Regions from separate parts of the Homo sapiens genome. Here region 2 is linked to region 1. The links come from fine-mapping of genetic effects on plasma protein levels. A gene starts in region 1. The other region holds a variant in brackets. All regions are shown on one strand. Distances are between the middles of the regions.

Region 1 (16,450 bases):
ATCTCATGTACCCCATAAGTATATACACCTACTATGTACCATATGTACCCACAAAAGTAAAAAAATAAAAAAATTACAAATTTCGGATATTAGTAATACATATTTTATAGAATTGCTCTGAGTATTAAATGAATAACGCTCTCAGCCCAGTTCCTGGAACACAGTAAGTGCAACATAAATGTTAACTGTTATTATTATTTGTTCATAAGCTATCATTTGCTAATTGCCTGTGTGTACTTTGACAGAGCTTGAACTTTTTTTTTTAACTGCCGTATCCCCAGCAACTTGACAAGTTCCTGGTATACAGTTAGGTCAAAATAAATAATTGTTGAATGACTAGATGAATAAATAAATGAGTCAATTCGATAAACCTCTTTTTGAGGGCTACATCTGTGCTTCTGAGGAGGAATTCCTGTTATGGTGGGCTCTCTTATTGAATGAATCAGTAAATGGAAAAATGAAAGGCAGAGGCCCTAGGCACCAGTTGCAGTGCCATTTACCTTCTTCCCAGTGGGCTTTAAAAGCATCCCCTCAGCGAGTCCCAAGAAATGGTACCCACCGTGTAGTTTACCTGTATCCCCTTCCTTGGCACCTGGTAGTACTTATTCTTCAGCTCCTGCAGCTTCTGAGTAAAGAGACGGTAACCTCCTGGTTTAGAAAATGTTCCCTGCTTGACATCTTCTTCTAAAGGGCCAAATATATCCTGAAGTAAAGCCATGCAACAATCTGATGATGCTTTGGAATTCTGCTTACAAAAGTCATCTCGCCTTGCTTCCAACTGGGCCTGTGAAGTGACAAAACAGCACAGATGTTTCAGTAAAGCCATGAGGAGGATGTTAACTATGTGGAGACTGGAAAATGCTTCTCCTTCAGAAATTGTGGCCCTCTAAATAGGGCCATGCTCCTCACATTGCTGTTAGATCCTAGAATATCCCTAAGTTGTGCTTATTGCAGAAATTTATCTACTTCTCTGTTTGTGATTTCCTAAAGCTCCTTTCTCCCAGTTTTCCTGTTTCAGAGAATGATTCTCAAAGCACATACACTATTTCATACGAAACTTTTATCTTTCCAAGTCTCTCATTTCAGGAATAGTTCTGAGCACAAACACTGGAGTCAGGCAGCCTGCCTGGAGTTCCCGGATACACTACACTGTGGCTTGTGACACTCAGTCTTTGTGAACTGAGGATTCCTTGTCTGTGCAGCAGAGGAACAATACCTATCTCACAGATTTCTCTGCAGGGTTATATGAGGTGATGTAAAGTATTAAGCCCGGGGACTTTTTAGAAGTGCTCAGTAAGGAGTACATGATTATTTAGTACATTCTTTAACATAAGAATATTTTTGTGTATTTTCTCAGCATAGGGCTAATGAAAGTAATGAAGATTGTGCCATAGGTATTTTCAGTATTTGGAAAGTCTCATAGAACAGCACATTTATCTACATTAAATCACTCAAGATAACTTAACTATGAAGCTTTCTCTTTCCTCCTTAGGTTGGAAGGGTGACAATTGCTGACATCGGCTATCTAGCTTCACCAGAACCTCTGACTGTAGCAACGTATCATTTATAAGATCCTGCCTTCCTAGCTAGGGAAAGGACTTTCATTTGTCAAGTGGTCATTCTGCATGCAAAAATACTTTGTTCACTTGGAATGAGGCAGACATTAAAAACATTCTCTAATAAAATTTATATAATTAATTTCTCTTTCTTGGCCTTCTGAATATTTTACCATTGGCTCACATTTAAAAAAATTATTAGGGTTATTTAAAAATAATTTAGTCCCCACTGATAATTACCAGGGAACATAAAAACAATGTATTTTTTAATTTAAAAGGACAAAATAAGTTAAAATAGTCTTTAACAATGCAGTTGTACCATCTACTTACTTTCTTAAAATATGGGACCCAGAGAGGAAAAACTAACAAAAGCAAATTTTAGTAAAAAATTAGGTGTCTTTTTTTAAAGGTCTAAGGCTATGCACATTCTAGTCTTTTAATGATTATTTCAAATATGTACACATAACTGAGTGTAACTATTTTGGGGTCTAGAAAGAATTATTTTCCCATGAAGGGCCCATATTTTTCTGCCTCTCATGACGTAGAACACCAAATATACCCCTAATTTCCTCTGGAACATTTGGTCCACATCCTTGAAAGAGTTCTTCATGAAGACTTCAATGGCCTCTCTCTCACTGTCCCTGTGCAGGTCCAGCAGCTCCTGGAGGGTTTCCGTGGGCAGCTGCACCTTCTGGCCCATCTGCTGTTCATAGTGGGCAATAGCCTTTTCCACTGCGGCTGAGTTCTCTATCTGGGCCAAGGCCAGGACTGCGTTCTCCATGCAGGGTAGATCCCCACTGCTGATGGCATTGACGTAGGTCAGCACCAGGCTCTCTAGACCTGCAAAAGGGAATTTTTAAAAAAATGTGACTATCAGTTGGTGGGACAGAATATTTTGTGTGCTTTTCAAGTGAGTGTCACAAATAATACTTTTAAATAAGTTTTGGATAAAGAATAGTAATGGAATAATTTGTTAACCTCTAATCACAGAGGAAATTGAAGTGGCTCTTTCCTATTTCCTTCACCCAAAAGGAAGATATTGAAATGAATAGGTTAGGATATTTTGGGGCTGAGATACTAGGTCAATGTGTTTTCTTACCTTTCTTTTCTCTCACCTCTCCCTCTATTCCCTTTCTCTCTTCACTACTAATTTATGAAAAAAGTCAATGAGAAAACTTAGCCTTTTTATTTTTATTAATTTTAGTGGTGCAGACCACTAGTCACTAGTCTGGTGTCTGGCTTAGGTAAATATGTCTTCTTAGATATTCTCTCATCAGAACTACAGATAGGATAATCAACTCATCGAGTTTGCCAGGGCTTTGCTGGGTGTAGCACTGAAAGTCTCACATGCCAGGAAAACCTCATCTTAGGCAAACTGGAGTGGTTGATCACACAACAAAAGATGATTCTTTTTGACTCAATCCTGGACCTTCTCATCTCTCTGCGGTTTTAAGTACCATCTGTATGGATGGCTGGTGTATTTTGTTTCCTGCTTTGACATTTCTTTTAAGCTTTGGATTAAAAATAAGTTTTGCACCTTATTTTTAATGCCTATCTTATATTCCTTACTGCATAAATCAGAAGAATCTCAATATTAAATAATCTAAATATCAAAACTTCATCCACTCTGAAAAACTATTTCTCCTCTTGATGCTACTATCTCATTAAATAACACAGCCATTCAAGCAATTGCTAAACTCGAAACGCTGGAGACAGGCTTGGCATTTCCTTCTTATTCCCTTCATAAATCCATATTCCCTCTATCAACAGGCCTTTTAGATTTAATATCCAAAGTATGTTCGGATCTTGTCCATTTTCACCATTTTCACTGTCATAATCTGAGACTAACCCAATGCCCATTTATGGCTCAACCACTGCAAATAGCATCCATCCTCTCATTCCCTCCCTTTCACTACTCCAACAAATTATCTACAAAATATTCAGAAAGATATGTATAAACATAAATTAGATAACCTTACCTCACTGCCAAAAATTCTTCAAGATCTTCTCTAGAGCTTAGACAAACTCTAATCTCCTCAAAGTCCTCTGCCAGTCCTTTCAAGACCTGACCCCTTTATACCCCTCCAATTATGACACCACTCTTATTCAGTCTTCTCTTGTTCCAATCGCCTGTCTTTCTTCTATTTTCGTTTAAAAAATTGAGATGGAATTCTGGTCTGTCACCCAAGCTGAAGTGCAGGGCATGATCATAGCTCACCATAGCCTTGAACTCCTGTGCTCATGCTGGGTCCTCCTGCCTCAGCCTCCTGAGTAGCTAGGACTCTGGGCAAGCACCACTGCACTTGGCTGATTTTTAATTTTTTCATAATGATGAGGTCTTGCTACTTTTCCCAGGCTGGTCTTAAACTTAAACTCCTGGGCTCAAGGAATTCTCCCACCTTGGCCTCCCAAAATGCTGGGATTACAGGCATTAGCCTCCTGTGTTCTATTTTCTTGAAGTTGCAAAGTTCTATCCTGCCCTATGCATTTCCACATTACATTATTTGCTATAAAGCTATTCCTCTATATGCTTTGGTTAGCTCTTAACCATTTATTTAATATATATATATATTGGAGACAGGGTCTCACTCTGTCTCCCAGGCTGGAGTGCGGTGGTGCAGTCTCCGCTCACTGCAACCTCTGCCTCCCAGGCTCAAGTGATCCTTCAGACTCAGCCAGCTGAGTAGCTGGGATTACAGGTGTTAGCCACCATGCCTGATTAATTTTTGTGTTTTTAGTAGAGGAAGGGTTTCCCCATGTTGCCCAGGCTGGTCTCAAACTCCTGAGCTCAAAGTGATTCACCCACCTCAGCCCCCCAAAGTTCTGGGATTATAGGCATTAGCCACCGTGCCCAGCCAACTCAATCATTTTTAAGTTCTCATCTTACAGGTGACTTTCACAGACAAGCATTCTCTCACACTCTAAATTATATCTCCCTGCCTCTCCCTTTACTCTTTCATAGCAGCCTATTATTTTTATGCATTGTGTTAACCACTATTTATCATTATACTTTTTTTTTTTTTTACTTTTTACAGAAGTATCTTTTGCTCCTATTATGCTGGAATGAGGATAAAAGTCACATTTCTTTTATCCATCATTATACTCAGTGGTTGGTACATTACATTATAGGCATTCCCTAAATATTTTAGAATTGCTGAACAAGAGAATTGTACTGCAGTTAGTTAGTGGCAAAGTCTCACTTACATATAGTATTTGCTTTTTTCTTTGTTGCTCAGTATATATATCCTGGATGTTTATTTGATAAAGAGGGAGCTGAGAAGTTGGTGGAGAAGTTTACCATAATAGAATTCAATTCTAGTTCTTTTCTTTTTTTATTCTCCTTGCAAGGAATATGAGATGATACTATAGCTTTAGTTTTCATGTAAAATTTATAATATGATTTTCATGTTGTATTTTCCTTGCCATCAATAGACTATGCATTTGTCAGAAGTGACCCTTATGCTTTCCATTTTATCCTCTACAATGGGCAGAAGGAGAAAGTCCAGGTAGGAAGTGGGTAGAGAGAGTGACTCACGAGGCCCATTGACTGGAATGCCACCTGAAAGAGTCTTGACATTGGAATGGCTGAGGATGTAGGAACAAAATTCTGCAACTTGTTCTATGAAATCAGGGTTCAGCTCTTCCTCCTTTAGCTGCTCTAGGTGAGCAAGGTACTTCTTAGGAGCGGGCCAATCGAAGACGAAGCACTTCCTCTTGGGGAAGAACTTTCGGATGCACAACCGAGGATCATTAAAGCTTTTACTTTTCTTATCAGTACCTACAGGAATGAAAATTAGAAGTAGTAAAACTTCAAATTAATTACTTCAAATATGATCTTTCAATTTTATAATTTTCACAAAGCCCATGTAAGGAGGAAATTTATTAGGAAGAAGAAATAAAAAATTAAAGGGGTAGAGAAAGGAAAGTCTCCAAGAAGAGGTAGGTAATGCAATTTAAAATTGGTTCCAACTGATATAGTCAAGCAATGTTTCCATTTCCTCTAGCAGAACAGTCAGAAAAATACAGTTAAAAATTATAATTTTTAGCACTGCACAGAAATGGTTATTTTGATATTATTTGCTCTCTATTTATTACCCAACCAAGCATCAGACCCAGTAACCTTTTCTTAGCTTTAGCGAAAGCTCCAAGTAGTCATCAGCAGTGATGGGTTCTCCATCTACTTCCAGTTCCAGGGTGAAATCTCTGAGAGTCCACACAAATGCTGGAAAAAAGCTCACAAAGTCAGCTGAGTCGTCTACAGAATTGTTACCAGGTGAGGAGTTTGCCTTGATTCGATCTGTCAGCTCTGTCACATAGCTGAGATGCTAAATTAAGAAAACTACAGAAAATGCCACTCTTTATACTACATTTTATCCTAATGCTTACCTAAAATAATTTGGTTTCTTTTTATTAGCTCATTCATTCATTCACAAACATTTATTTACAGAATTCATTCACTCACAAACATTTATTGAGCACCTACTATGAACCAAGCACTGCCCTAGGGACTAAGAACGCTGTAATGAATGAGACAATGCTACCACTATAGAGCTTACATTCTAATGATGGAGACAAACAATGAACAGGTAAACAAAAATAAATTATCAGGTATTGATAACAATTGTCTTGAAGGAAAACGAACTGGGCAACTAGCTCCTAATGTATTTTTAGAAACTAGCAACCAATAGACATTCATCTAATACTCTGGTGTCTCCCAAATCTACCAATAAGGAAAGCAGAGAATAATTGTGTGTATCTGCATGTGGTGCTGGTTCATGTAGTTTTCCAGGTAAATTATCTCTGACATTGTAGTTGAGCAGTGATCTGAATGAATTGAAGAAACCAGTCATGTACAAATCCAATGGAGGAACATTGCAGACAGAGATCACAGACCCTTCAAGGCCCTTAGATAGGAAATTACTGAGTGTGTACAACATATATCAAGAAATCCAGTGTGGTAGGGCAGAAGCCTTAAAATAAATAGAGGTTGGGATATGCAAGCTCTGTAAACCAAAGTAAGAAGTTTGAAATTTAATAGAAAGTTAATGGGAAGTCATTGGTGGGTATTAAGTGAAGAGAGGATATAGTATCGTTTTTTGTTTTTTAAATCATACTGGCTGGCATTGCATCTGTGAGTCAAGTGTGTATGCCAAAACAAACAAACAAACAAAACTAATACAAAAAGCAATTAGGTAGTTGAAAAGATAACCAAGATGAGAGGCAATGGAGCAAGTAGTGAGAATTGGCTAGTCTAGAGAAATAACTTTGATAGTGGAGCTGAAGGAGTTTGATGATTAATAATTTCCAAAACATAAGGAATGGAATCATCCAAGATGATTCCTAAGTTTTTGATCTGAGCACTTCTATGAATGATGTGGGAATTTATTGTGATTAGAAAGACTGGGAAGGAGTTGTTTTGGACAGGAAAATTAAGTTTTGTTCTGTACACTTTAGGCTCAAGATGTCTCTTACACATCTGAATGGAGATGTTGCACCAGAAGCTGGATACAAAAGTTTGAATTTGCTCATGCTTGGGAATACAGATTTGATGGTGATAAACATATTGGTGCTACTGAAAGCCTTGAAGCTGGATGTGATCATCTGGGGACTGAAAGCAGAAAAAGAAAAGAGGCACAAGAACTTAAGTGTTATAATATTTAGAGGCTAAAAGGAGAAAGAGGATAGAGTAATCTGAAAAAGTCTACCAATAAGGAAGGTGGAAAATTAGGAAATGTGGTATTCTAATAGGAACCAATTCCAAGTGAAACAGGCATTTCAGAAAGGTGGAAGGGATCAAATTTATGTAATGCTCCTAGAGAAATAAAAGGCTTATGGAAGATTGGAAGATCAAATGAGGTGAGAACTGTGCATTACATATAGGAATATGGGGGTGATCTTGATGAAATCTAATTCAGTATAATGCTTGAAACTAAGCTAATGGAAATGGTGAGGTCATTGATAATGAACTAGGTTAAGTAATGTGTGAGAGTGGAGAATGACAATAAGGGTGGAGAGTTCCAATAAGGTGATGGAACTGAGACACCAGGGTGTTAAATAATTGTCTATTGGTTGCTAGTCTCTAAAAAGACACTAGGAACTAAAATCTTTAATGAATGAAGGATGTATTTATTGGAACGTTGCTAGATAATTGCAACAAAAATAGTGGTGTAGTCTGAGGGCATATATATTAAAGAAGATTCTCTTTTTAATGGTAAAGGAATGAGAAAGTGTCCAGAACTCTAATATGGAGCAAGGAGGATACCTAACTCATCTCTTACACTTATGATATGCAAGGTATGGGATTAAAAATAGTCATCACATAAGACCACTGGAGAGGTCTGTAGGAGAAATAGTATCTATAGTGTATAGCTAGGTATCATTTAGAAGGCAACACTTAGAGCAGATGATAAGAATATAGAGAGTTGCAGAAGTGAGAACATGAGTTCTAGAGGACATTGAAGGTTTGGACAGGCATAGGAGATTAAGTCAGATAGAGGATATACAGAGTCTTGGGTGGCTGAGTATCTAACGAGACATGTAACTGGGAAGACTTGAAGTTCAGATGGAGATTGAGATAGAATGAGATGTTCAGCATAATGAGATTTATTAAAGAGAGGACTTATGAATTCTTCAGTACCTGTCTGTCTGCCTCTGTACTTGGTGAAAAAATGAAGCTGTTATTTTCTAGGTTTACTGCTGTTCTGGACCACAAAAAAGGATACTGAAGTTGGTCCATGGCCTGCTGGTTGATGGTTCCCATGCTATTGTACACGAAGGTGCTGCTCAGGAGGATGGCCAAGGCAAAGATCCAGGAGTCATTCTCATTGTCACCCTGTAAGTCATTGTAGAAGCCACAAAGAAGAATGACTAGCAGAATGTACAATCAATTCAGATAGCTGAAGACTGACTGAACTCCAACTCTGTCTCTCATTAGTTCTGAAAACTTAGGTAACTCACTTCCTTATGCAGTATTTTTTTCTACCTGTAGAACAAATTTATAATATTTATGATGTATAATTTAAGGTGTTATATATAAATATATGTCAGCAGGAAACACATGAGCACTTGGTAGGAGAAGCTATTTTGATCAGCTACTAAAATTCAAACTGGTACCCTAAACTTAGTTTATGACCCTATTCCATTTCCATGGCACATCATAGTAAGATATTTTTTACACAGTAGTTAAAATAAGCTCCTTTAATAAAAGCTTTCTATGTCTAAGATTTATAACAGTAGTAATATATTATCCTTAATGAGCAAAGATGTTATCATTAGATTTTACACTTTGCTTCTCTTTCTACTGGTGCTGGTGTGGATGTGAACATTTTTACTACCTTTGTGGGATCCCACTGTAAAAAGTCAGACATGTTTGTAAAACGTCTACTGAAGTTTATAAGCACCTTCAGCAGCCTCACCAAAACATTTTACTATAATATGAAAGAGAAATAACTGAAAACATCATTAGCCATTATTTCATAGGTTTACCCATAATTAATCAATTGAACTTATTGTGTACTCTGAATGCTTATACCACACAAATTTTAAGAAATAATATATTAATATAATTAACTAGAGCCCTAAATCAAGGAGTAGGAGTGATTGTGCAAAGATGGTTATCGATCTGACCTGGTTTATGTAGATTTTAATCTACCTAAGTGAAATTTTTAAAATACTTATTTTTTTTACCTTCTCTATATCTCCCAGGCCCTCAGTGTCGAGCAGAACTAGGGTGTGTTCTGGCTTCTTGGGATGAGGCACACACCACATCCAGATTCCCTTGGTGTGAGACTTCACTGTGGAGCCTAGAGAGAAGCCTGTAGAAGGAGAGGATAAAAGGGAAAAGAAATTACTTAGTAGGTGTTTCTGGAAATTGAGATAAAAGTTAACATAATTGAAGTTAAAAGAGATAAAAGAAAATACAACTGGCATAAATCTTAATTACAATCCTGGAAACAGGAAAATTAGATATTTAATACACACTGAAACATTCATATTTTTCTTAAAGTTCATTGAAAGCTTGCTGTCACTACATGAACATTTTAATAAATGTTTTATAAGTCATTATTATAGAAGTTAATTTTCTTTATTAACATTGTGTTCCTTCCAGAAAGGCACATTTATACCCTTAGTATAAAATAAAAGTAAAGTGGGAAGAGTCAGTTGACTGTAATCCTCCAAAGTCAATGTAAAGAGCCCATTAATGGACTGAAAGTTAGCTTTCAACATTCATTCTCATCTCTTTCTATGCTCACATCCCTAAGCTGGATGTTCGCCGTGTGTACGGACAGAAGGGGCTTAGAGCTTTGCTGGTGTCACTCACCGTTTTTCTTCCCAGCCAGCTTGTTCATCAGGTAGGATTTGCCTGTGCGATAGAGGCCCACAATCGCCACCACCACCACAGGCTGCGTAATTGCAGATAGGATCTTCAGAGCTTCTGGATTCACCACCAGCTGCCCTTTAGTGTTATCAATGAGGCTCATTGGGCCCGGCAAGTTGATCTCTGGAGCCATGTCCAGGGTGTTGTTCCCTTGTGTGCAAGGAAAAAGATGAAATGGAAAGCAGTTTTTAGGTAGTTAGCTATGCTGAACTTTACAATATGGGTTAAATTTTTGTTTTCTATGCTTGAACATTTTTTCATATACGTTTTTTAAAGCCTGGTTTCTCTTTAAGGCTGTCTTACAAATTGGGTCACTGGCTTTCTTTAAAAATAACTTTATTTTGAAATACACTTACAGAAAAGATGTACAATGGGTATGGAAAGTTCCCATATATCATTTCCCCTAAAGTTAAAATTTTCCATAACCATAGAACAAGGATTTTAACATTGGTAGAGTGATAACTAATTTACACTCCTTATTCACATTTCACCAGTTTCCCACTAATGTCCTTCTGCTCCATGACCCAATCCAGGATTCCTCATTGCATTTAGTCATTATGTTTCTGTATTTTCCTTGCATCTTTGATAGTTCCTTATTCTTTCCTTGTCTTTCATGTCTTTGACATTTTAGAAGTTGACTGGCTATGATTTTGTAGAATATCCCTCAATTTGGGTTTTTTGATGTTTCCTTATTATTAGATTGAAGTTATACATTTTTTTTTGCAAATGTCACCAAAGTGATGTTCTGCCATTTTCAGTGTCTTGTATTAAGGGATTCATGATGTTGACATGACTTTTTCTGGTGCTGTGACCTTAACTTTGATCACTTGGTTAAGGTGTTCTCTGCCAGGTTTCTCTACCACAAAGTGTTATGTACCATTTTGTCACTAAAAAGTACCATTTGAAGAGACAGTTTGAAGACTATGCAAATAAAGATTCATCATACTTCCATAATTTTTTCAGTCACTATTTTTAGCATCTGTTGATAATTCTTGCTTATAACTTACTGTGATGTTTGACTAAAAGTAATTTTCTATTTTCATTCCTTCTACATTTATTAGAGTTCTAATGTGAGCAAGAACTGCCCTTTCTCCTCTATTTATTTTATTTACTTATTTAATCATTTAGTTGTATCAGTGTAGATCTATAGTAGATCAGTGTAGATTTATCATATGGGTAACACTTTACTATCACTATTTATCTCATTGCTCAACTCGTCCCAGATTAGTTCACTGAGAGCTCCTTCAAGCTGTAGCCCAGGTACTATGGACGTGCTTCCATCATATTTTCAGTGCGTCTTTCCTTCTGACATTACAATATATGCCAGGCTTATCTAATATTTTTTCTGCTTCAGCCTTAGAATCGACCATTTCTCCCAAGGGCTCTGGTTGCTTTCATTGGATAATGGTAGATAGACAACAAGATTATCACACTAGGTGTAGTCATTACTTCTAGGCCCTCTCAGGTGGAAAGTTAAGAAATCTATGTTTATATACCAGCACATGAATACACACATCTACATTTATTTCTCGTCTATCTGTTTCTATATATAAGCTTAAGTTTCTTCTGATATTTCTAATTCCAATTCAACAAAACAAAACTTATTCATGTTTTCCCCTTGTTTTTAAAATCTTTTCTCTGAGTGTGTCATTATACATAATAAATTTAGTTATTTGCTCAATTCTAGTACATATAATTTGTTTTAAAGTTACTAACTCATAAGTGTTTGAAAGATAAATTTGCTAACTAGAGTGCACTATTAGTTAAAAGTTCTTGTCTTTGGTCTTACACATACAGTCAAAACACTGTATTCCAAAGTTGCTTAGACTACTATTTCCTTCTCCATTCTCTTTGGTGTAGTTAAATTATTTATTTGTAATATAGTTAGGTTCATTTGTTGGTTGATTTTAAGTATGCATTTATTTTTGAGTATGCGAAATATCAGAGTTCTGAAAGTCAGAGCTTTACAACAAGCTGTAGTCAGAGAAGTGTCACTTTCCCTTCATCTTGGCACTGCATTCCCATTCCATCTGTCTTTCTATTCTTTCCACTTCATGCCCACTTATCCTCCATAGATATCCAATCTTGTTAGTTTCTAGTTTACCTTTCTTGGACTTTTTTTCATTAATGAGCATATACATGTATATTTTCTTATTCACATTTTCCAACAAAAAGATCACATCACTTAGAAATATGGGAGTCTTTCCCTATCAGTTCGTAGGAAGATTTCTCAATTCTTTTGACAGGCATCTACTCCATTTATGTGGACATAGCACAGTTTATTCAACCGTTCTTTTATGTATAGACTTTTAGATTGTTTCTAATATTTAGCAATTACAAACAATGCTGCAATGAAAACCTCTGCTAACCTTGTGAGTGTTTATTTTTATATTGCTATAGGAGTAACTTTAGGATAGCATCCTATAAGTGAGATTGCCAGGTCAAAAGGTAAGAGCATTTTATTTTGTTGGATATTGCCAAGTTCCTCTCCAGAAGGATGTATCAGGTTGAATTCCCACCAGATCATCTTGTATCTCACTGTTCAGAAAATGGATTTTTTTTCTAGATATGTCACATTTTCTGACTTAATTACAAAATTTTCTTTGGAAACTTTTCACATTCACGTTTAGATATTTGGACTGAGCAAAGCTGAGCTCACTAAGCTCATGTACACAGTAATAGGAACTTTTACCTGGGGAATCTTGTGTCATACATATCTCCATACTTTGAAACATAGATACCATTCTAACCCAGCCTTGGTCCTGATTTCTTCCAAGCCCCTCTACGGACAGGGTCTGGTCAGACTGTGGGACTCAGGTTACCCAGTGGCTTCTTCCTATCACTATGCAGGAAGCCCTTTGAGCTACCACAGGACATCACTTGTTCTTAATATTTGCTGTGAATCAGCATTCACCTGTTATTCACTCAAGCTTGGTATCTCAAATCTGACATGTAGAAAATCTGCTGATTTTTTACTCAATTATGTTACCAGATTTTAACCTCTCTGTGTTTTAAGACTGATTCTTTATCACCTGCATGTATATCAGTTTGCATATTGCTTTCAGTTATTTCAGGTAATGAAGCCAGCATCAGGAAACATTCTCTGATGAACCAGGGCTTGTTTTTTTCTGACTTCTGCTTCATGGAGAGCAGTATATACACAATTGTAGGCATATCCTGTTTAACCAGGCCTTGATAATTTGATAATTTTGTAAATTTAAAATGAGCAAGAAGCCTTCCTGTAGTAACATCTTAATTTGTGTTTTTGCCTTGAATGTCTCAATCCCTGTAACTTAAAATGATCATGATATAACATTTATAACTTCTTTAACAAACAATCATAGACTGTAAGCATTACAGCTTTCCTTCTTCTATAATAAAGAGTGCTTTGTTTATAATATGGAGTCGATTACTTCTGACTTGCTCTGATGAAGGCTTATATCTAATTATCTGTTTCCCATCCCTTCAGGGGACAATGGCAAAAAAACTATTTTTCTGTGGTCAGGACCCATTTTCTCTTACAACAATGGCTCACAGACACTTCTGGCAAGACTTCTGTTTCATTTTATAGCATGATGTAAACCACCTTAAAATGGGAATCAATCAATGACTGACTCAGAAAAGTAGCTGCACAAAGACTGTATAAGCTCCCTAATTATAATAACGTGTTCCCTCTCTTTGCAGATCCCAAGTTGCCTACCTTCATTTACCTAGAGCTCTACAAGTGGCAATAATGAATGTGATGGAGCCCTAACTTTATTAAGCAGATACTAATAATGATAAAGTTAATTTAAGATAGTGTCAAGAAAGAAATAACAATTTAGAAACATTCCCATCTCTCTATGCTGGAGACTAGTTCACAGCAGGAGCAGAGAGCACTAAGGAACCTGCAGCCACTTGATAGGGCCAGGATAGTATGTGGACTTGTGTCCCACAGCAGGCTCAGCTGCGGCCTGTTGTGGGAATGGTCAATTTAGATAAAACTGATGAACCCTGGTAAATATTTTCCCACCCCTGCCCCAGTCTTACCCAGATCAGAGATCCTTTAGCACTGGAAAGAAGGTTGTTCCAATGTGAAAGTCGAGTCCTTTTCCTCCTCTCTTTTCTTCCGAGTTTGGCTGCACTGCTTTCTCCCTCTTTTTTCTCTCACGGTAACTGTGGACTTTTACTTTACCCCTCCAACGTCCTGGGGCTTCCTCCAACGTCCAGGCTCTGTCAATGTCAGAGACCTGACGAGAGACAAGAAAAAGAGGTAACCTCTGCAAAGAAATGCACTAATATGAAACAAAGTATCAACTAAAGCAGTGACTCATTCACCATAAAAGGAATTGTTGACAGCTGTGCTGGTAAGAGGGTTTGTCATGATTTCTCAACCAGGAACTTTCCACTTTATCATTGGAAAAGATCTTAGAGACTGCTTGCTATATTAAGTTTTAAAAACCCCTTCATTGGGTCATTTAAAATAGTGCTATTTATCTCATGTTTGTGGGCCAGTTTGAGAAGCATGTGGATGAGAAAGCCTCATATAATATTTTCTTAGGTCCAATTACCTTGAATATTAGCTTGAGCACTGTTAAGTGCCCTGAGGGAATATCTATGTCTTATATACTTTTGAATTATCAGCACCTAACCCAGGTCCTGACACTTAACATTTAATAAATAATAAATAATGATGAAGGTAACTCTCATTTATGGCACACTTGATACAGACACAGTGATAACTTCTTTATATAAATCATACCATTGTATTCTTATTTTGTATTTGTTTATTTTTTAGAGACAAGTTCTTGCTCTGTTGTCCAAGCTGGAGTGCAATGACAATCATAGTTCACTCTAACCTCAAACTTCTGGGCTTAAGTTATCCTTTTGCCTCAGCCTTCTGAATAGGTGGGACTACAAATGAGGCATCATACCAGCGTGTGTGTGTGTGTGTGTGTGCGCGCGTATGTGTGAGATATGAAGTCTTACTATGTTGTGAGGCTGGTCTCCAACTCCTGGTCTCAGGCGATTGTTCTGCCTTGTCCTCCCAAAGTGCTGGGATTACAGGTTTGAATCACTGCACCCTTCCCCCTTGCATTCTACAGTAATTTCACCACAATGTTACCAAGAAATTTAACAACTTGTTAATATTACAAAGCTACCAAGTAAGGTTTGAACCCAAGTCTTCCTCTAAAACCCATATTATTGTGTCCGGAATTGGTGGGTTCTCGGTCTCACTGACTTCAAGAATGAAGCCGCGGACCCTAGCGGTGAGTGTTACAGCTCTTAAGGTGGCGCGTCTGGATTCTGTCCCTTCTGATGTTTGGATGTGTTTGGAGTTTCTTCCTTTTGGTGGGTTGGTAGTATTGCTGGCTCAGGAGTGAAGCTGCAGACCTTCGCGGTGAGTGTTACAGCTCTTAAGGCCGCGCATCTGGAGTTGTTTGTTCCTCCCAGTGGGCTCGTGGTCTGGCTGGGCTCAGGAGTGAAACTGCAGATCTTCGTGGTGAGTGTTACAGCTCATAAAAGCAGCGTGGACCCAGAGTGAGCAGTAGCAAGATTTATTGCAAAGAGCAAAAGAACAAAGCACCCACACTGCGGAAAGGGACCCGAGCGGGTTGCCAATGCTGGCTCCAGCAGCCTGCTTTTATTCTCTTATCTAGCCCCACCCACATCCTGCTGATTGGTAGAGCCCAGTGGCCTGTTTTGTCAGGGCACTGATTGGTGCGTTTACAATCCCTGAGCTTGATACAAAGGTTCTCCACCTCCCCATCACATTAGTTAGATACAGAGTTTGGACACACAGGTTCTCCAAGGCCCCACCAGAGCAGCTAGATACACAGTGTCGATTGGTGCATTCACAAACCTTGAGCTAAACACAGGGTGCTGATTGGTGTGTTTACAAACCTTGAGCTACATACAGAGTGCCGATTGGTGTATTTACAATCCCTGAGCTAGATACAGAGTGCCGATTGGTGTGTTTACAATCCCTGAGCTAGACATAAAGGTTCTCCAAGGCCCCACCAGAGCAGCTAGATACACAGTGTCCATTGGTGCACTCACAAACCTTGAGCTAAACACAGGGTGCTGATTGGTGTATTTACAATCCCTGAGCTAGACATAAAGACTCTCCAGGTCCCCACTAGACTCAGAAGCCCAACTGGCTTCACCTAGTGGATCCCGCACAGGGGCTGCAGGTGGAGCTACCTGCCAGTCCCCTGCCGTGCGCTCGCATTCCTCAGCCCTTGGGTGGTCCATGGGACTGGGCGCCATGGAGCAGGGGGTGGTGCTTGTCGGGGAGGCTGGGGCCGCACAGGAGCCCATGGAGTGGGTGGGAGGCTCAGGCATGGCGGGCTGCAGGTCCGGAGCCCTGCCCTGCGGGAACGCAGCTAAGGCTCGGTGAGAAATAGAGCGCAGCGCCGGTGGGCTGGCACTGCTGGGGGACCCAGTACACTCTCCGCAGCCACTGGCCCGGGTGCTAAGTCCCTCATTGCCCAGGGCCAACAGGGCTGGCCGGCTGCTCCGAGTGCTGGGCCGCCAA
Region 2 (12,432 bases), 120 kb before region 1:
TTAGAATTTGTGATTTGAATCAGTCAGATAGTCTTTACAGTCTTTGAACAATTTTTAAAAAGGGAAAATGAATTTTGACTTTACAAATCAGTTTGGCGCAGAATATACATTCCTCTCATCTGCACATGGCACATACTCTAAGGTTGACCACATGCTCAACCATAACGCAATTCTCAACAAATTGCAAAAAACTGGAATAATACCAGCCACACTCTAGTACTACAGCACAATAAAAATAGAAATCAATACCCAGAAGATCTCTTAAAACTATAAATTACATGGAAATTAAACAGCCTGCTCCTGGGTGATGTTTGGGTAAACAATGAAATTAAGGCAGAAATCAAAAAAGTCTTTCAAACTAATGAAAACAAAGATACAACATATCAGAATCTCTGGAACACAGTTAAAGCAGGGGTAAGAAGAAAGTTTATAGTGCTAAACGCCTACATCAAGAAGTTAGAAAGATCTCAAATGAACAACCTAACATCACACCTACAGGAACTAGAAAAACGAGCAAATCAACTCCAGAACTAGCAAAAGAAAAGAAATGACCAAAATTGAGCAGACTGAATGAAATCGAGATGCAAAATCCATACAAAAGATCAATGAAACCAAAAGTTGTTTCTTTGGAAGAATAAGATTTAAAGACTATTAGATTAATAAGGAAAAAGAAGATCCAAATAAACACAATCAGAAATGACAAATATGACATTACCATTGACCTTACAGAAAAAAAAAATACCCAGACACTATTATGAACTCCTCTGTGCACACAAACTAGAAAACCTGGAAGAAATGGGTAAATTCCCAGAAACATATAACCTCTCAAGAATGAACTAGGAAGAAATTGAAATCCTGAACACACCAATAATGGGATCCAAGTTGAATCAGTACTAAAAAACCTACCAACAAGAAAAACCTGTGGACCAGATGGATTTACAGCCGAATTCTACCAGATGTATAAAGAAGAGCTGTCAATAATCCTACTGAAATTATTCCAGAAAAATCAAGGAGGAGGGACTCCTTACTAACCCCTGAGGGTCAGCATCAGTCTGATATCGAAACCTGGCAGAGACACAGCAAAAAAACAAAACTTCAGCCGGGCGCAGTGACCCACGCCTGTAATCCCAGCACTCTGGGAGGCCGAGGCGGGCGGATCACGAAGTCAGGAGATCGAGACCATCCTGGCTAACACGGTGAAACCCCGTGTCCACTAAAAATACAAAAAAATTAGTCGGGCGTGGTGGCGGGCGCCTGTAGTCCCAGCTACTCGGAGGCTGAGGTAGGAGAATGGCCTGAACCCGGAAGGCGGAGCTTTCAGTCAGCCGAGATCCAGGCACTGCACTCCAGCCTGGGCGACAGAGCAGGACTCCGTCTCAAAAAAAAAAAAAAGAGAAAACTAAAGGCCAACATCCCTGATGACTACAGACACAAAAGTCCTTAGCAAAATACTAACAAATCAAATCCAGCAACACCAAAAAGCTAATCCACCATAACCAATAGGCTTTATTTCTGGGATGCAAGGTTGGTTCAAAATATGCAAATTACACATAAAAACTACAATGAGATATCATCTCACCCCAGTTAAAATGGCTTACATTCAAAAGACAGGCAATAACAAATGCTGGCAAGGGTGTGGAGAAAAGGGAAACCTCGTACACTGTTGGTAGGAATGTAAATTAGTACAACTACTATGGAGAATAGCTTGGAGGTTCCTGAAAAAAAAAAAAAAAAAAAAAACACAAAACAACAAAAACTAAAAACAGAGCTACCATATCATCCAGGAATCCCACTAGTGGGTAAATACCCACAAGAAAGGAAATTAGTATATCAAAGGGATGGCTTCACCCCCATGTTTATTGCAGCAGTGTTCACAATGCTGGCCCAAAGATAGTGCTAGATGCTTCATGCCAGTTAGATCCCTAGAGCAATGTTAGGAATATTAATCAACACCAGCTTTTCTAGGTCTTTAAAGAAGGGATACTGATGAAATCCTTTGTGGGGAGTAGAGGGAGAAGATTCTATTATAAATAGCACAAGAATATAAATAATTATCAAACTCGTGAAATAATCAATATGATGTTTAATAATTGTAAACTTTCAGGGAGAAGTGTTAGGAATGGAGTTGGGATAATAAAGTGTATATAAGATGTTCATTCATTTAAAAAAATTATTTATTATATGTATATGTGCCTGGCAACCTTTCTAGACTCTACTGATGCTGTGAGGAACAAAAAAGACAAAGACCCTGCCCACTGGACCTTATTTTCTAGTAGGGAGGGGAGACAGGCAGTAAGTTTGAACAAACTCATCAGTAATGTAAGGTAGTGATTAAATATTGTGAGGAAAAATAAAAATTCTGGCCACTAGATGGTGCTCATTGCTTTCTTAATTTCTTTCACTTACCCAGTTCATTCAACTGGGTAGGGATGCTGACTGCATGTTGCTCTATTAAAGTTGTGTTTGGGGCCAGGTGCAGTGGCTCATAACTGTAATCCCAGCACTTTGGGAAGCCGAAGTGGGAGGATCGCTTGAGCCCAGGAGTTCAAGATCAGCCTGGGCAACATAGCCAGGGCTCATATCTATTATTATTATTATTATTATTATTATTTTGAAGTTGTGTTTGGGTCAAAGTAATAGGTTCTTTCTTTTCCCGTCTCCCTTCTCCCAATTTTGATTTGTTTAAATTTGTTTTTTATTTTTTAGAGACAGGGTCTCATTGCTGTGTTGCCTAGGCTGGAGTGCAGTGGTGGGATCATAGCTCATGGCAGCCTCGAACTCCTGGGCTCAAGCAGTCCTCCTGCCTCAGCCTTCCAAAGTGCTGAGATTACATGCGTATGCCACCATGCTCAGCTTCCTTAGAGATTTCCAAGGATTTTTTTTGTTTTGTTTTTTGTTTTGTTTTTGTTTTTCTTAAGAGGCAGGTCTTGCTCTGTTGCCCAGGCTGGTCTCGACTTCCTGGCCTTATGCAATCCTCCCTCCTTAGCTTCTCGAGTACCTGGGACTATAGGCACACACTACCATGCCCTACTGGATTTCTCTCTTTCTTTCCTCCCTCCCTCCCTCCTTCCCTCCCTTCCTTCCTTCGTTCCTTCCTTCCTTCCTTCCTTTCCTTCTTTTCTTTCTCTCTTTCTTTCTTTTCTCTAATTAACTGATAAGGTGAAATAGGGCTAAGACATACTAAAGAGCTGTGTGAACTATCTTGTTATAGGGGGATTAGATTAACTCCTTCCTAAATCATAGATGTGCTCTCCCCTCAATTTCCTGGGTATTTAATTTTCTTTCATTTGTTTAATATATGTATTCAGCATAGACTTTAAGCTCTTTAAGAGAGAAACACAACCATGTTTCCTAGTCCTTGGCGGAGAATCTTGTAGATAACAACTATCTTGAATGAATAAATTCCTCTAGCCTAAGCAATTGCTGTTTTCTATGTAGTCTTACCTAACTTCCTAAAAGGACTGTTTTAGAGTTAGACTGGGGGGGAAATCTATATAATAAAACATGGGAGAACATTAAAGTTAGTCTTTGTTAAGGCTAACTCTAGAAAGAAGGTCTTGAGCCTTCTTTTCTATTGTGAGTAGAAGGAGCATTATAAGAACTACAGGGTGATGGAATCTAAGGAGATACAGGAATTGTGATCCATCCTGACAGTCTCTTGGTCTTAGAGTAGTTTTAATATACAGATCCTGTTCATGCTTTGTTAGATTTATATCTATTTGTTTCCTTTTTTTGTAGCTATTGTAAATAGTATCATTTTTAAAATTTTGGTTTCCAGTTTTTCTTTGCTTATATATAGAAACTGTTGAAGGTTGATTTTTGTGTGCTGACCTTGTATCTTTTGACTGTATTAAATTCATTTATTAGTTCTAAGAGTTTTATTGTAGATTACCTGGGATTTTCTACATAGGCAATAATGTTGCCTGCAAATAAGGACAGTTTTATTTGATGCTTTCTGATCTATATGCCTTTTATATCCTTTTCTTCCCAAATTGCACTAACACTTCCATTGTACTAACAATTCCGATGTAATGTTGAATGGGAGTGGTGAGAGTGAACATTCTTGTGTTGTTCCTAGATCTGAGGGGCAAAAGATTCAGTGTTTCATCAAGTATGATGTTAGCTGTAGAGTTTTTGCAGATGCCCTTGATCGGTTTGAAGAAGTTCATTTCCACTCCTATTTGCTGAGTTTTCATATGAATGACTGTCATATTTTATCAAGCTTTTTCTTTATCTATTTATATAACCATGTGATTTTTTTTCCTTCTTTAGACTTTTAGTGTGGTGAATTACACTAGTTGATTTTTGAACTGCTTTACATCCACAGGATGAATCCCACTTGATTGGTGTGCATTATTTTTCTATATTGCTGGATTTGATTTGTTAATAGTTTGTAGAGGATTTTTGCATCTATGTTTATGAGGGATAATGGTCTGTAGTTTACTTTTGTACTGTATTTGTTTAATTTTGTTATCAGGATGATGCTGTGCTCATAGAATGAATTGGGAAATGTTCCCTTTTATATTTTCTGAAAGAAATTATTAAGAATTGGAATTATTTAAAAAATGCTTAGTAAGGTTTGCCAGTCAAGAGGAACTATCTGGATGTGGAGATTTGTTTTTCAGATTCTTAACTTTTTTACTCCATTTCAGTTTCTTTAGAAATTATATGACAGTTCAGGTTATCTATTTTAACTTGGGTGAGTTTTAGTTGCTTGTTTGTGCTTTTTTCAGAAATTAGTCCATTTGAGTTGCAGAAGTTATACACATAGAGTTGTCAGAATGTTGAAATGTTGATTTTTAGTTTTACTATTTAATGCATCAAAGATTAAAAGTATTTCTTAAATCTTGATGTTTTTTAAAATTTTTTTGGTAGAAACACTTTATTTGGCTTTGTTGATTCTTGAGCCTGGTCATTTGTAAGACTGATTGGACAGGTTTCACTGAGGGATTTCTGCCTTTTTTTTTCTTTTTTTTTGTCAGGATCTCAGTGTTTGATGTGCTCCTTCCCTGTGGATCAGAGGAGCTTGTATTTCCTTTCACTAAACTCAGAGAAGGAAAACTAGCAACTTATTACTTAAACAAGAGAAGAAATACTTCTGTAAACTGAAAATATTTTTGGCACAGAGACACATACCATACAGGCCAGCAATTTTAGGCCTTAAGCTATGGTAGCTTCAGCAAACAGGAAATGAATAAGGGAAACCTGAAGCACCTTGTCATACAGATAGTGAGAAGGCTACAGGGTCATTCCAAAAGGATTCCAGAGCCAACTTATTCAGGCTCCCAATGGCCAGTACTCCTGGTTGTAGATCCAGGAACAATGCAAGAAAATCATAGCATTGCATTGCCATTTTCTTGTCATTGTTGCACTCAATGACACTCTCAGACCTACTATGTCAGAAAGTCAGAGGAAGGGTAGGGGCCAGGGAATCTTTATACTTAATAAGGTGATTTTAATGCATATCAGGATTGAGGAGCACTGGTGAAAGCAACATGCCTCCTTGGACAGTGAGCTTTATTTGATTCCTGGAGATATTAAAGAAAAGCACTAAATCAGAAGTCAGATGATATGGATTTGGGTCAGGACATTGATGCTACCAAACTAAGGAGGAAGTAACTTAATTTTGCTGAGTTTATAGTAGCCTTGAATGATCTTTTGTATTTCAGTGGTGTCAGGTTTAATACCTCCTGTTTTGTTTGTTAGTGAAGTTATTTGGATTTTCTCTCTTCTTTTCTTAGTTAATCTTGCTAATGGTCTATCAATGTTATTTTTCTTTTCAAAGAACCAGCTTTTTGTTTCATTTATCTTTTGTAGTTTTTTTCAATTTCATTTATTTCTCTGATCTTGGTTATTTCCTTTCTTCTGGTGGGTTTGGGTTTGGGTTTGGTTTGTTCTTGTTTCTCTAGTTCTTTGAGGTGTGAACTTAGATTGTCTGTTTGTGCACTTTCAGACTTTTTGATGTAGGTGTTTAGGGCTATGAACTTTCTTCTTAGCACTGCCTTTGCTGTATCCCAGAGGTTTTGATAGGTTGTGTCATTATTGTCATTCAGTTTGAAGAATTTTTTAATTTCCATCTTGATTTTGTTTTTGACCCAATGCTCATTCAGGAGCAGGTTATTTAATTTCCATGTATTTGCATGGTTTTGAAGATTCCCTTTGGAGTTGATTTCCAGTTTTATTCCACTGTGGTCCGATAGTGTGTTTGATATAATTTTAATTTTCTTAAATTTATTGAGGCTCATTTTATGGCCTATCATGTGGTCCATTTTGGAGAAAGTTCCATGCACGGTTGAATAGAATGTGTATTGTGAGGTTGTTGGAAGAAATTTTCTGTATGTATCTGTTAAGTCCATTTGTTCCAAAGTATAGTTAATCCATTGTTTATTTGTTGATTTTCTGTCTTAATGACCTGTCTAGTGTTGTCAGTGGAGTATTGAAGTCCTCCAGCATTATTGTATTGCAGTCTATCTCATTTCTTAGGTCTATTAGTAATTATTTTATAAATTTGGGAGCTCCAGTGTTAGGTGCATATATGTTTAGGATTGTGATATTTTCCTGTTGGACAAGCCTTTTATCATTATATAATGTCCCTCTTTGTCTCTTTTAACCACTGTTGCTTTAAAGTTTGTTTTGTCTGATATAAGAATAGTTACCTCTGGTCGCTTTTGGTGTCCATTTGCATGAAATGGCTTTTTCCACCCATTTACTTTAACTTTATGTGAGTCCTTATGTGTTCGGTGAGTCTCCTGAAGACAGTGGATAGTTGATTGGTGAGTTCTTATCTGTTCTGCAGTTCTGTATCTTTTAAGTGGAGCATTTAGGTGATTTACATTCAATGTTAGTATTGAAATGTGAGGTAATCCTTGCGTTCATCGTACTCTTTGTTGCCTGTGTACTTTGTTATTTTTTTGTTTTTGTTTTTTGCTTTTGCTTTTTACCTTGTATTTTTGTTTTGTAGGTCCTGTATGATTTATGCTTTAAAGAGGTTCTGTTTTGGTGTGTTTCCAGGCTTCGTTTCAAGATTTAGACCTCCTTTTAGCAGTTCTTATAGTGGTGGCTTGGTAATGGTGAATTCTCTCAGCAATTTTGTCTGAAAATGACTGTTTCTTTCCTTTACGTTTGATGCTTAGTTTTGCTGGAAACAGAATTCTTGGCTGATAATTGTTTTGTTTGAAGAGGCTAAAGATAGGGCCGCATTGCCTTCTGGCTTGTACGGTTTCTGCTGAGAAATCTGCTAGGTTAGTCTGATATGTTTTCCTTTATAGGTTACCTGGTGCTTCTGTCTCACAGCTCTTAAGATTTTTTTCCTTCATCTTAACTTTGGATAACCTGATGACAATGTGCCTAGGTGAAGATCTTTTTGTGATGAATTTCCCAGGTATTCTTTGTGCTTCTTATATTTGCATGTGTAGGTCTCTAGCTAGGTTGGGGAAGTTTTCCTCAATTATTCCCCCAAATATGTTTTCCAAGCTTTTAGAATTCTCTTCTTCCCCAGGAACACCCATTATTCTTAGGTTTGGTCATTTAACATGATCCCAGACTTCTTGGAGGATTTGTTCATATTTTCGTATTCTTTTTTCTTTGTCTTTGTTGGATTGGGTTAATTCAAAGACCTTGTCTTTGAGCTCTGAATTTCTTTCTTGTACTTGTTCAATTCTGTTGCTGAGACTTTCCAAAGCATTTTGCATTTCTAAAAGCGTGTCCAAAGTTTCCTGAATTGTGGATTGTTTTCCTTTAAGCTGTCTATTTCATTGAATATTTATCCCTTCACTTCTTGTATCATTTTTTTGGATTTCCTTGCATTGGGCTTCACCTTTCTCTGGTCCTTCCCTGATTAGCTTAGTAACTAACCTCCTGAATTCTTTTTCAGATAAATCGGGATTTCTTCTTGGTTTGGATCCATTGCTGGTGAACCAGGATGATTTTTGGGGGGTGTTGAAGGGCCTTGTTTTGTCATATAACCAGAGTTGGTTTTCTGGTTCCTTCTCATTTGGGTAGGCTCTGTCAGAGAGAAGGTCTAAGGCTGAAGGCTGTTGTTCAGATTCTTTTGTCCCATGGGGTGTTCCCCTGATGTAGTACTCTCCCCCTTTTCCTATGGGTATGGCTTCCTGTGAGCCAAACTGCAGTGATTGTCGTCTCTCTTCTGAGTCTAGCCAGCCAGTGTGTCTGCCCAGCTCTGGGCTGGTATTGGGGGTTTTCTGTACAGAGTCCTGTGATGTGGACCATCTATGGGTCTCTGAGCCATGGATACTAAGGGAAGAAAACACCCCTCATATTGTCTTATGCCCAATTTCTGCCTCCAAAGAAAGAAGAAGTAAAAATTAAAAGGCAGAAATGAAATCCACAAGCAGACAGTTCAGCGCCACACCCTGGGCCTGGTAATTAAAGATTGACCCCTGACCTAATTGGTTATGCTATCTACAGATTACAGACATTGTATAGAAAAGCACTGTGAAAATCCCTGTCCTGTTCTGTTCCGTTCCGTTCTAATTACCAGTGCATGTAGCCCGCAGTCATGTACCCCCTGCTTGCTCAATCAATCACGACCCTCTCACGTGGACCCCCTTAGAGTTGTGAGCCCTTAAAAGGGACAGGAATTGCTCACTCAGGGAGCTCGGTTGTTGGAGACGTGAGTCTTACCAAAGCTCCTGGCTGAATAAAGCCCTTCCTTCTTTAACTCAGTGTCTGAGGGGTTTTGTTGGTGGCTTGTCCTCCTACAATACCAGTGCCTGTTCCAGTGGAGGTGGTGGAGGGTGAAATGGACTTCATGAGGGTCCTTGGTTTTGGTGGTTTAATGCTCTATTTTTGTGCTGGTTGGCCTCCTGAAAGGAGGTGGCACTTTCCAGAAAGTATC[A/G]GTGGGAGAGGGACTGGTGGTGGGCAGGGTCCTAGAACTCCCAAGATTAAATGACCTTTGTCTTCAGCTACCAGGGTGGATGGAGAAGGACCATCAGGTCAGGGCGGGGCTAGGAGTGTCTGAGCTCAGACTCTCCATGGCTGGATCTTGCTATGGCTGCTGTGGGGGATGGGGGTGAGATTCCCAGGTCACTGGAGTTGTGTACCTAGGAGGATTATGGCTGCCTCTCCTGAGTCATGCAGGTTGTCAGGGGAGTGGGAGAAGCTGGCAGTCACAGGCCTCACCCAGCTCCGATGCAAACTGGAAGGCCGGTCTCACTCCCACTGTGCCCTTCTCCCTGCCAACAGCTCTGAGTCTGTTTCCAGGCAGAGGGCAAGAGGGGCGGGCTTAAAATTTGGCTGAGGCTTTCTGCTCAGCCAAAAAGAAAAGGACTTTAGTTCTTCACCAGCCTGTGAAGTTTGCATGCTGGATTTGTGCCCTCCCCGAGTTCTGGCAGGAGGCTTCTCGCCCCATTCAAATTGTTACAAAGTTTGGTTGGAGAATTTCTTCTTTCTGTGGAGTTTTACCTGTTGCTCCTCTGGCTGACCTCCCGATAGATCCCTGTGGTGCCAGGCAGGAATGGCCTGCCTGGGGACACAGTGAGCTCCCAGGGCCTTCCAACTGCTTCCTCTACCCCTGTATTTTGCTCGGCTCTCTAACTTGACTCAGCTTCAGGTAAAGTCGGAAACTCCTCCTGCACACAAACCTTCAGCTTCTCCAGTGGGGGTGTGTGTTCCAGAGAGGAGGGTCTCCCTTTCCCACTTCTGCAGTTGGGGCAGTCAGAATATTTGGAGTGTTTCCTGGGTCCTGCAGGAGCAGTCTGCCTCCTTCAGAGGGTCTGTGGGTCCTCTTGGGATTCATCGTGTAATATTTTGAAACACTACATAATTATTTCAAGATTCTAACATATACAATCTAATCCTTATGATTCTTATAAATGTAAGTAAAATAAGGCAGATATAAAATGAAACTTTGACCAATGTTTCTATAAACAAAGGTCTGCAAACTATAGCTTGTGTGTGCCACCTGGTTTTGAAAATTAAGTGTTATTGGCACATAGCCCCACCCATTTACTTATGTATTGTCTATGGCTGCATTTGTACTGTATGCAGAGTTTAGTAGTTGAGACAGTTGACCTGCAAAGCCATAAATAATCACTATCTGGTATTTTACAGAAAAGTTAGCCAACCACTGCTATAAAGACTCAAACCTTATTATTTGGTGAAAAACTAAAAAAAAAAAAATGGAAATAAAAAAACTAGTGAAACTTATTTTATTTCTAGTTTAGTTTATTTCTAGTTCAAAAATAATCTGTAATTGCTGTAAGAAATGTCAACCACTTACCTAGGATGTTTGACAATTGGGATGAAGTCTACATATACTAAGTAATGGCAAGACAATTATTTTATTGCTCAAAAGAAAGTCAAAAAAATTCCATATTCCCTTTGGGGAAAATTGGCAGGATTTCAAGTATGACCTTTAAGAATCAGGAAAAGACTAACTTATGCTTTAGGATTAAAACAATCAAATAATTAAATTAGTTCAATTTTCTAACATAGTCTCTATCTTCAGTTAAAGTGCATCATTGCATGTTATACATTACTAAAATTACACAGTGCATAATTGTTACCATGTGACTATTTAATTCAGGGTCAACTGTCTAAAGGTCTCAGGTGTCACATTAAGGTTATAATCTAGATGAATTGAACAAGAAAGAAAAGATTTCTTCATTAGCCAATTTGTTTATGATTCAATTCCTACTCTTGCTAATGATTTCTTTACCTTCCTATGGAAAATATAAGATTCTAGATCTCTGTATAAGATGGTTTGCTTTAGCTTGAGATCCATCAGTGAGAATTATCCATGGGCAATGTCCAGAAATCACATTATTGCTCATAGACCTTGTAGCCTTGATATAATGGAGAACTGTACACTGTCTTCCCTAGGAAGCTAGGATGGTTGTTTCTGATATTGGGACCCATTGTACACTTGGCCAAACCAGTGCCCAAATATGTCCCAAGATTTTTACCTAAGACTTTCCTCAGTATCCACTGGTCGTCTGGAAGAATAAACTTCTGAGTGGTGGCAACTCATGATCCCTCCTCTGTTGGTACAGAGGTAAATGCATCTTTGTTGCACAATTTACAATCTTTTTAAGGAAAAAACATGATTTTGATCATTGAACTGCATGTTCTTGTAAACTTTTAGTGTTATGATGCAAGATCTAATTATTATCAAATATAGTGACACTTGTTCCAAATTCTAAAATTGTTTCAGTTATGCCTTGGGTTAGGATGACAGAAAAGCTCTGTTGTTTAGATCTTTAGCTTATGCGACATATATCTCTTGGTTTTTTTTTTCAGGGTCTTCTGTAGCTTTTGTATCTCATTTTGAAGTTGGGTACTTTCACCTTGGCATCTCTCCTTTAGTACTCGGGCCTGTTCCTAAAAAGGGACAAATGGAGGCTAAATAAGTGTAGCATTAAGTAAATCTCTGTAAGCTATCTAGTTTCCACATGCATTGATTTATTTAGTACTTAGTTTTTTTCTTGAAATTTTCTCTACCCTTGATTTTAATTATAGTTTTTCTGGGCATTTGGGCTGTGTGATTATTTCTCCTGGGTTTTCTATAGCCAAAAGAGTTTCAGCGTATGCCTTCTGCTCTATTGATGAAGGTCTTGCTTTTTTCCCCCTATTAATTATACAAAACCTTTGTGGGAAATCTTAACAATATATTTGACTTCAAATCTTCCCTATGCATTATAGACTTTTTAACACACCTACCTACACACATATTATTATTATATACACATAATACAGAGATAAGTTACTCTCAAAATCTGATTAGGTATATGAATCTTAGATCAGGAAATTTGATCTAAGTCTCTACTCCCTGTTGGCAGGGGTAGCAGAAGATAGGCAAGGAAATCCGAGTGCCAGACTTACCATATAGAATTTCTGCACATAGCTCCCAACTCAACACAAACTGTGAGTAGGGCACAGAAAACAGGCAGGAGTGGTAGACTGCCCTACAGGTGTGAGGGTTAGGGAGTCCTTCTGCTCATAAAAGTTCTCTTAGAGCCAAAGTCATACTAGATGGGATAGAAAAAATATTACTATGGATTCCACTAAGTGATGAAGATGGGTCAGATATTTACTAGCTGTGTGACACTATAAAAGTTATTTAATATTTTCTGAACCTCTGTTTCCTCTCCTAAGTAATAGGGATAAAGTTCTCGCTTCATATGGTATTAAGCAAGAGATATAGATAAGGCATTTTTATGATGCCTAGCATATGACAGCCGTAAGTGGAAGGATACACTAAAACGGGACTGAATGTGACACCCTGCAAATAAACTTTTAGTGACCACATGTAGGCAGTGGCCATTTCAAGTCAGACAGACAGAAACAAGAAAGTACAAGTGAGCAAGCAAAATCCTTCCCCTGGGCTTTATGTTCGCTCTGCCATACTAAGTTTGTGATCAGGAAGAACAGAGAGAAAACAGAAAAACGAACCACAAGGTGATGCATTTGGAT

Alleles and levels. Positions count from the first base shown, and alleles are read on the strand shown. Strength reflects both the effect of a copy and how common the allele is.
In carriers of allele G in region 2, the plasma level of the protein whose gene starts at base 14,214 in region 1 tends to be higher than with A alone (weak association).

Evidence for each region. A credible set is the group of variants that fine-mapping cannot tell apart. PIP is the posterior inclusion probability: the model's chance that the variant is causal. The UK Biobank Pharma Proteomics Project read protein levels with antibody pairs (Olink). The fine-mapping took linkage between variants from a reference panel, not from the people measured, so its PIPs are less certain.
Region 2: its variant is the best candidate, but not a certain one, in a credible set for the plasma level of the GBP2 protein (UK Biobank, PIP 0.57).

What each region holds. Positions count from the first base shown.
Region 1 is chr1:89,111,901-89,128,350 of GRCh38, forward strand. It overlaps GBP2 (guanylate binding protein 2), which reads right to left and starts at 14,214. Exons shown (of 11, transcript NM_004120.5): 1 at 13,963-14,214; 2 at 9,877-10,083; 3 at 9,243-9,370; 4 at 8,279-8,388; 5 at 5,677-5,873; 6 at 5,092-5,334; 7 at 2,116-2,396; 8 at 572-784. The coding sequence starts at 10,066. LOC112268267 (a long non-coding RNA gene) reads left to right here and starts at 5,878. Exons shown (of 2, transcript XR_007066213.1): 1 at 5,878-6,142; 2 at 7,011-13,331. RefSeq lists a silencer at 9,766-10,060.
Region 2 is chr1:88,996,513-89,008,944 of GRCh38, forward strand. GBP3 (guanylate binding protein 3) reads right to left here. Exons shown (of 11, transcript NM_018284.3): 11 at 10,168-11,340. The coding sequence ends at 11,212. Among named protein-coding and RNA genes, the nearest start is that of RBMXL1, 10 kb to the left of the region's middle. The variant A/G (reference allele first, on the strand shown) is at 8,858.